Linked DNA regions of Homo sapiens: region 2 is linked to region 1. Evidence: fine-mapped expression QTL. A gene starts in region 1. The other region holds a variant in brackets. All regions are shown on one strand. Distances are from middle to middle. Region 1 holds the start of FKBP10 (FKBP prolyl isomerase 10). Region 2 holds the start of NT5C3B (5'-nucleotidase, cytosolic IIIB).

Evidence for each region. PIP is the estimated chance that this variant, and not a neighbour inherited with it, causes the effect. A credible set is the group of variants that fine-mapping cannot tell apart.
Region 2: its variant is the best candidate, but not a certain one, in a credible set for the expression of FKBP10 in sun-exposed skin (GTEx, PIP 0.56).

Annotation. Positions count from the first base shown.
Region 1 is chr17:41,810,627-41,815,002 of GRCh38, forward strand. FKBP10 (FKBP prolyl isomerase 10) reads left to right here and starts at 2,378. Exons shown (of 10, transcript NM_021939.4): 1 at 2,378-2,653. The coding sequence starts at 2,409. P3H4 (prolyl 3-hydroxylase family member 4 (inactive)) reads right to left here and starts at 1,323. Exons shown (of 8, transcript NM_006455.3): 1 at 828-1,323; 2 at 506-658; 3 at 237-408. The coding sequence starts at 1,289. RefSeq lists a silencer at 953-1,442 and enhancers at 1,583-1,692, 4,179-4,376.
Region 2 is chr17:41,834,496-41,838,871 of GRCh38, forward strand. NT5C3B (5'-nucleotidase, cytosolic IIIB) reads right to left here and starts at 1,737. Exons shown (of 9, transcript NM_052935.5): 1 at 1,687-1,737; 2 at 1,364-1,462; 3 at 708-777; 4 at 575-621. The coding sequence starts at 1,698. KLHL10 (kelch like family member 10) reads left to right here and starts at 3,330. Exons shown (of 5, transcript NM_152467.5): 1 at 3,330-3,631. The coding sequence starts at 3,438. RefSeq lists silencers at 1,221-1,330, 1,461-1,840 and an enhancer at 2,261-2,340. The variant G/A (reference allele first, on the strand shown) is at 2,138.

The DNA.
Region 1 (4,376 bases):
CCTATGAACCCAAGCTTCCCAAACCCTTTAGGGATGTCACTGCCTCTACTCACTGATCCAGCCCCTTGGACACTCCCAGCTGGGGCCCCTGCACCCAGCGTCTTTCTCAACAGACAAGGCCTTCCTCCCGGCTGGCTCCTCCGCATTCGCAGTGCTCCACGTGCATGAAGGGGACATCTGCCTTACCGGGCCCTGTGGGTGAGAGGACCGCCCACCGTGGTCTGGGTGGCAGATACCTGCTATGGCCGGGTAGAAGTCCTTGAAGTCCACCTGCTCATGGGCCCCTTCACAGCCGGCCAGGCACCGGGCAAAGACTGCCAGGTACTCTGACAAGGCCCGCTCCATGTCCTCCGTGCTGCTGCGGAAATCCCCGCTGTTGTAGAGCTTCACAGCCCGGAGGAACACGGCCTGGAAGGGGCGTGGCAGGGGGAGTCAGGGCGCCCCCAACATCTCCCCTCCTCTACTAGCCCTCCTCTACAAGCCTCCTCCTGACCCTCCACCCCACCTCGTAGGGCTGGGCCTCTAGGTCCGTGAGGGACTCGTCGGCGACGTCCAGCATCCCCTGATAGTAGTTGAGATACTTGGCGGTCAGCTCGTGCTTCGGGTTCCTCTGGAGGAAGGTGTAGGCCGCCGCCACCGCCTTCTCCAGCCGGTTAGCCTGGTCGGGGGGTAGGGGGTGGGGGAGCGGGTCAGCAAGACCGGAGCTCGCGGCCCCGAGCGCACGGCGGGCTTCGTGCCTTGGGTGAAGATAACGCTCCTTCGACCGATCTGTGGGGAGCCACGACGCCCAGCCCGAGACAGGTCCCCGGGTGGGGGCGGGCTCCCACCTTGAACAGCGCGTAGTGCAGGTACTGGTAGGGCAGGCGGCTCTGGAAGTCACGCAGCAGCTGCCGCGGCGGGTAGGGCACCTGGAAGGCGGGCAGCGTCCGCTTGCAGCGCCGCAGGCAGGCGGCTCGCTCCAGGACGCGGCCGAAGAGCCGCAGCTCGCAGGCCCACTCGTCTGCGCGGCCGCCGTCGGGATCGGGCTTGGCCGCGGGCGCGGGGCCGCTGCAGTTGGCGTGGCAGAAGGCCTCGCTGTCGCGCAGGAGCCGGTGCAGCCGCAGCGCCGCCTCCAGGTAGCGCGCGCTCTCGCGCCAGCTCTCTCCCTCGTACTGCTCCAGAGCGTGCCCGTACGCCGCGGCCAGCGGCATCAGGTCCTCGGGCGGGAAGCCCCGGAAGCTGTACTTCTCGTACTGCGCCCCGGCGCTGCCCAGCAGCAACCACAGCAGCCCCCACGCCACCCGAGCCATGCCCGCCGCGCCGCCGGCTCTCCGGAGCTGAGCTGGCTGCCCCGCGGACGGAAGGGGACAGGGCCGGGCCCCGGGCGGGCGGCGCGCCCGCTGGGTCTTAGCGCCGGGCACGAGGCGGCAAGGTGGGGCGGGGCCTGGGTCACGACGTCTCCCCTCTTTTCCCAGAGGGTCCGATAGTGTCGTTAAGTCCTCTCCGTCGGCCCGGGCTCCTGCCTTGGGGGTGTCCCCTAGGTAGAGAATGCGTCGGGGAGCGCTTCCCGCCAGAGATGGGAAGCCCAGGAAGCCCCTCCCCATGCAAACAGTGCCCCCGCCTGAGATCAGGACACTGAGTGAGGGCCGCCTCCTCTGCGCTGCCCATACGAGAAGGAAGCCCTGGAGCCGGGCCTTCCGTCGCTGCGCCCTCCTGCACCCTCCGAGTGTCTCCCCCGCCCACGTCGGAGGCACACACCTGCTGTCACCTGCACACCTTGCGCTGCCACCACCCCCCACTCCATCTCCGTGCCCGTCACATCCCAAGTCACAAAGTCCTTCTTTCAGTCCAGCTTTTGCGGGACCAAGCTGCTCTTCCCTGGAGATGCCTTCCCTTGGAGTACAGCTGGGGTCACGGATGAGCACGGAGATGCCTCTCACACTCCGCGGCTTCACCACCCACCTGGAGGGGACTAGAATTCGAAGTGCCCGCGAAAGAAGCAAGGTTCATCTCCGCCCGGCTTTAGGACCCGGGGGCTCCGGAAAAAGTCATTGAACTTTTTTTTTTTTTTTTCCTTTGGTGTCCACTCAGAGTTCTCATCTTTCCCGAGCCTCTCTCCCTGGCCAGGCCCCAGGTCTCGCAGCCAGGGATGGAGATGGGGGGAGGGGGAACCTAGAGTTCTTTGTAGTGCCTCCCTCAGACTCTAACACACTCAGCCTGGCCCCCTCCTCCTATTGCAACCCCCTCCCCCGCTCCTCCCGGCCAGGCCAGCTCAGTCTTCCCAGCCCCCATTCCACGTGGACCAGCCAGGGCGGGGGTAGGGAAAGAGGACAGGAAGAGGGGGAGCCAGTTCTGGGAGGCGGGGGGAAGGAGGTTGGTGGCGACTCCCTCGCTCGCCCTCACTGCCGGCGGTCCCAACTCCAGGCACCATGTTCCCCGCGGGCCCCCCCAGCCACAGCCTCCTCCGGCTCCCCCTGCTGCAGTTGCTGCTACTGGTGGTGCAGGCCGTGGGGAGGGGGCTGGGCCGCGCCAGCCCGGCCGGGGGCCCCCTGGAAGATGTGGTCATCGAGAGGTACCACATCCCCAGGGCCTGTCCCCGGGAAGTGCAGATGGGGGATTTTGTGCGCTACCACTACAACGGCACTTTTGAAGATGGCAAGAAGTTTGATTCAAGGTAACCCCGGTTGGGCGCCCCCGGATTCACCACTCCGTCCCCTGAACCCGGGGTCCTGTTTCCTTGTTGCCTCTTTTAAGCTCTGCATCCCAATACTCTAACCCTAGACAGCACCCCTGGGGCCTCCCAGACACCCATCTCCCCAAAGATACCCTCCTGCCCCCACTTCCAAACCCTCACTTCTCAAAGGATCCCATTTCTTTCTCACAAGCTCTCCACATCCCGGAAAGGACTCGATAATCAAGGTGAACTGCCTTGTGTAGTTACCAGGGCTGTATGTAATGACCTGATGGAGAGGGGTGTTCTGATCTACAGTGTTGGGGGGAAGGGGGTGGTCCCTGCTGCTTAAGAACCCTGGGATGGTCTATCAGCCTGGACCCCGTACCTTTCCACCCACCCTGACTCCCCTTCTGGTTCCACTGTTTTCAGTGCCTTTGTGGTCAGAGAAGAGGGAATAGAACTTTTTTTTGGAGGGGGTGGGAGTTTTCAGCGGCTGGTGGGCAGGGAAAAAGGCTGGTGGGTATTATAAGAAGACAGCCGGCTGGACCTGGGGGTAGCGCGTGGCTCCCTGCGGAGGCCCTGTCTACGTGTCACACAGTCGGACATGCCACCCTGGGCTCCTTGGAGGAATTTCATTCCTCCCTCTCTGGTTCTCCTGGAACCCTCATCTCTCTCCATTTTAGGTACACCAGGCCAGAGGCACAGGCCGCCCATTTTTGCCAGCCTTGGGGTTTGTAAGGTGGCCTCCTGGTCTGACCCAGGCCTTTGGTCTGCCCCAGCAAGTCCACTTTTGTTAGCGGGGACAGGGCAGGGCTGTATGCCAGCCTCAGGGGTAAATCTAGGGTCCCAGTTACACACAGACCCCACAGCACACTGAAAGAAGTCAGTGTTTCTTAGACCCTCCTCTGAAACACACAACTCAGCCCACAGGAAATTAGTGGCCATGACTTTAGAGGCAGGCATATATTGGGGTAAGCCTACAAACTCCAAGAGTCCCAAGACCCTGGTTCAAATCCAGGCTATGACCATGGACAGAGAATTTTGTCTCTTTAGGCATCACTTTCCTTATCTGAAAAGTGGAGACAAAAACAGGACCTACTTGCTAAGGCTGATGTTAGGACTCCAAGGACATGGATGAATGAACGTAGGCTTCTCACAGGGCCTGGCAGTCCTCCAGCCAGTTCAGCACACATTAACATTGACCCTGAGGAAAACCATATGACCTGATGCTGTGGAACTTGTAGAAACTTAATGCAGAGCTTAAGCCTTCATAACAACACTGAGAAGGAAACAGTCCAGACTTAAAACCTGTCTGCTTGGTGGGCAAATTCAGATATAGGGTAGTAGCCAGAAGTGCAGCCCTGAGCCCTTGACTGCTAGGAGTGAGGCAGGGGTTGGGATTTAGGGGATGTCATCCCTGATGGGGACTCTGGGAGCCCAGCTCATGAGTGTTGAGCTTGGAAAACTTTTTGTTTTTTAGCTGGAGGCTCACTCTGTCGCCCAGGCTGGAGTGCAGTGGTGCCATCTCAGCTCACTGCAACCTCCTGGGTTCAAGCAATTCTCCTGCTTCAGCCTCCCAAGTAGCTGTGATTACAGGCGCATGCCACCACGCCCAGCTAATTTTTGTTTGTTTGTTTGTTTTTGTTTTTTGAGACACAGTCTCACACTGTTGCCTGGGCTGGAGTGCAATGGAGCAATCTCAACTCACTGCAACCTCCGCCTC
Region 2 (4,376 bases), 24 kb after region 1:
AGCACTTTGGGGAGGCTGAGGAAGGAGGATTGCTTGAGCTCAGGAGTTCAAGACCAACCTAGGCAACATAGTGAGACCCCATCTCTACAAAAAATTTTTAAAATTAGCTAGGTGTAATGTTACATGCTTGTAGTTCCAGCTACTCAGTAGGGCTGAGGCAGGAGGATCACTTGAGCCTAGGAGGTCAAGGCTGCAGTGAACAAAGATCAAGCCATTGCACTCCAGCCTGGGTGATAGAGTGAGACCCTGTCTCAAAACAAACAAACAAACAAGCTCTGCCATTTGGCTGTATGACCCTGGGTAAGTTGCTGAACCTCCAGAATGTTCAAATCTCTTGTAAACTCTATAGCCAACAGTAAATATAATGTCCAGTTCCAACCATTAATCATCATATGTCCTGGCCAGTAAGGAAAAGCTGTCTTAATGTATTAAAACTAGACCCTCCTTAGCAAAACAACAAGTTTTTAAAAATTAATTTTCTAAGGTCTCTATACTGGAATCTTTGGTTCCAATCAGGAACCATTTGAAGTAGCAAATGACAACCATTTCTGAGCAAAGGACGGGAGCAACCCACCTCTTTCCGACACTCCTCACTGATGATCTTGCTATTATCCAGAATATCTGGAAAAAGAGAAAACTCCTTTTACTTGTCCCTTAGAACCCATCGTCTTGTCAAGCTCAACAAGGGAAGCTAGAATGTGACTTACTGTAAGAAGAAGGGCATCGCTTTCCATTATATGCAAACCTGCTCAAGGTCATGTCAAAATCAGAAATCACCTATAAGGCAAAAGAGAGATGATGCCTAAATAGGCACCAGAATTCTAGTGTGGCCCTGCCTCAGCCTGGGGGATGATTATGGAAATCAATACAGCTCAGTGGCCAGGATGTAGGCAAAGCCCTAGGGGAGTTACCGAGTGACACAGAGGGATAGAGGGGAAGTGATCCTAATTAGTACCCGTTAACCCTGAGGAAAACGCAGTCTCCTAGTGTGGGGGCAAGGGTGAATACTCAGGACCCCTCTGACTCCTTCAATATCAGGTCCCTCCTAAGAGATCTCTACCATTACGGCCCATCTGGACATCTTCAACTTACTGGGGAGCCGCTGGCTTGGGGAGGATAAGGCCCTAGGTACTGGTGTGGGCGCCTTCTGTCCAATTAGAGGAAGCAGCATGACCATATTGAGAAATCTGAAATTTGGGTTTTAGGACAGGCGAACCAACCCGCTCTCCTTCAAGCTCCCGGCCATTTCTTGGGGCAGAGAGCTAGGAGGGGTCCGCGGCAGAGCAAAGCGGGAAGGCCCAATGGGCAGGAAGCCTCTCCAGCCGCCCCCAGCCCGGCCGGCCCCCGCACGCCCCAGAGGTACCTGTAACCGGTCTCCGCCGCCCTTGCGGAGGGCGCCCACGATCTCCTGCACCCGCCCAGGCTGCCGCATCAGGACCGTGGCCTTCATCAGGGTGCTCACCTGTCCCGAGACCCGAGAGAACCACTGACCCCTGCGCCACGCTGGGCCCGAGGGGAGCCCGGGGCTCGCTCGGGCGCGCGTGTGAGGCGGGGCCGGGGTGCGCGAGGGGGCGGCTACTGGCCTGGGTGAAGCGGCGGTGCCTCGGTGACCAGCTGGGGGGCTCGAAGCGCCCCGGGGGTCGGAGTCCGGGCCCGCCCCACTCCGGACGCTTCCTCCCTCCTCACCTCCTCTGCCATCCCGTTCGAGGCCTGGTCGGCGGCTCGCGGGACAACGACAGCCCCGCGACCGCACTGCGCAGGCGTCGCCTCCCGCCTGGAGCCCGGGCGGGGGTTGGTGGGGCCGGGGGCGGGGCGGGGGTGGGGCCGAGAATCGAGCGGTCCCGGAGATGGCCGCGATCCGGGTGGGCTTGCCGGTTGCGCTAGGCAAACTGGAGGAGGGTTCTATTTATTATGAAGAGCAGGGTGAAGGTCCCAAGGTGTTGGGGTTACGTGGGTAGGTAGGGTTCTGCCACTCTTTGTGGAGGAAAAGCCTTGCCAAACGTGGTCATTTCCAGGCTGAAAGTTTGTGACAAAAACATGACTGGGGCTGGGCGCGGTGGCCCATACCTGTAATCCCAGGACTTTGGGAGGCCGAGGCAGGATGATCGCTTGAGCCGAAGAGTTCGAGACCAGCCTG[G/A]GCAATATGACGAAACCCTGTCTCTACAAAAAATACAAAAATTAGCCGGGCATGGTGACACGCACCTGTTGTAGTCCCAGCTACTCGGGAGGCTGAGGCACGAGGATCACTTGAGCCCGGGAGATCCAGGCTCCAGTAGGCCGAGATCATACCACTGCACTCCACCCTGGGTGACAGATGACACCCTGTCTCAGAAACAAAAACAGAAAAACCACACGGCTGGATGGGAGGAGAGATGAAGGAGCCATAAACTGAATTCTGTTAATCACCCAGAAAGGGCTCTGTTAACTAGGCCATTCCTCATTCCAGAAGAAACTGAGTGACTAACCCATCCAGCGGGCTGGGAGACCCGGGACAGCTTTCTGAAATGTAATCAGCGTTGGCTGGGCACGGTGCGGAGCACTTGTAATCCCAGCTATTCAGGAGGCTGAGGTGGGAGGATCACTTAAGCCCAGGAGGTCGAGGCTGTAGTGAGTTATGATCACACCACTGCACTCCAGCCTGGGTGAGAGAGCGAGACCCGTCCCTAGAAAAAGAAAGATTTTTTTTTTGAGATGGAGTCTCACTCTGTCGCCAGGCTGGAGTGCAGTGGAGCGATCTCGGCTCACTACAACCTCCATCTCCTGGGTTGAAGCGATTCTCCTGCCTCAGCCTCCCAAGTAGCTGGGACTACAGGCATGTGCCACCACGCCCAGCTAATTTTTGTATTTTTAGTAGAGACGAGGTTTCACCATGTTGGCCAGGATGGCCTTGATCTCTTGACCTTGTGATCCATCCACCTCGTGCTGGGATTACAGGTGTGAGCCACTGCGCCCGGCCTAAGAAAGAAATTTAATCAGTTTTACTTCTCCCTTCAGCCTCAATTGACTTGGATTTCCTTGAGTTCGGTGTCTAGGGAGCCAAGTGTTGGGCTGTGGAAGGTAGATGAATGCTCCAGGGATAGAGACCTGTATCAGGTGAGTAACAGGAGCTGGAATCAATAAACACTCAGATGGTGCTAGTGGTCATGGTTCTGTTTTGGGTTCAAGGACACAGAAGGAGGTGTGAGGTGGTTTTCAGCCTAAGTGGGGTGGTAAGGAGGGGAGAAGGAAGAGGACAAGTCCAGGAGGCAGTTCCAGAACCTGAGAGCACAATCCTGTGTGATCTCACTGCAGGGCCAGGATTCTGGAACTTGGGTTGCCTGATAGACCCTATACAAAAGATGTAGTAGGGAAAAGGAGCGACAGCTGGCTAAAGGGGCCCCCCACAACCCTCCCCGACACCCTAGGAAAGCAGCCTCTCTCCGCTGTCCCAGGGTGCCATGGAGATGGAGAGCGCGGCGGCCTCCACACGTTTCCACCAGCCTCACATGGAGAGGAAGATGAGTGCGATGGCCTGTGAGATCTTCAACGAGCTTAGACTAGAGGGCAAGCTCTGCGACGTGGTCATCAAGGTCAATGGCTTTGAGTTCAGTGCCCATAAGAACATCCTCTGTAGCTGCAGTTCCTACTTTAGGTATAACAGGGTTGCCAAATTCAGCCAAAGGGGTAATTGGGCTCATTTTGAGACACTTTGATCCATTTTCTGTTTCCCACCCCATCACCTTAACTTTAGGGACACTGTCAAAGCTCTGGGCTCCTTAAAAATTAAAAAAAAATTTTTTTTTTAGAGATAAGCTCTCATTCTTTCACCCAGGCTGGAGTGTAGTGATGCAATCATAGCTCACTGCAGCCTTCAACTGCTGGGCTCAAACAATCCACCTACTCCAGCCTCCCAAGTAGCTAGGTCTACAGGCACATGCTGCTACGTCCGGCTACTTTTGAAATGTTCTGTAGAGAGGGAGTCTCGCTATGTTGCCCAGGCTGGTCTTGAACTCCTGGCCCAAAGCGATCCTCCTGCCTCAGTCTCCCAAAGTGCTGGGATTACCACTGTGCCTGGCCAACTCTGGTCCAGGCAGGAGCTCCTGCCTGGCTCCTTTGCCTTCTGAAGAGGCATGACTAGGGTCAGGGCCTTTTTTCTCTCTTTTTTTTTTTTGTTTGTTTTGTTTTTTTTTTTCCTTTTGCTCTTGAGAGATCTGATTTTTGTCTTTTTTTTTTGAGATGAGTCTCATTCTGTTACCCAGGCTGGAGTGCAATGGCGCCATCTCGGCTCACTGCAAACTCCGCCTCCCCAGTTCAATCCATTCTCCCACCTCAGCCTCTCAAGTAGCTGGGATTACAGGCGCCTGACACCACGCCCGGCTAATTTTTGTATTTTTAGT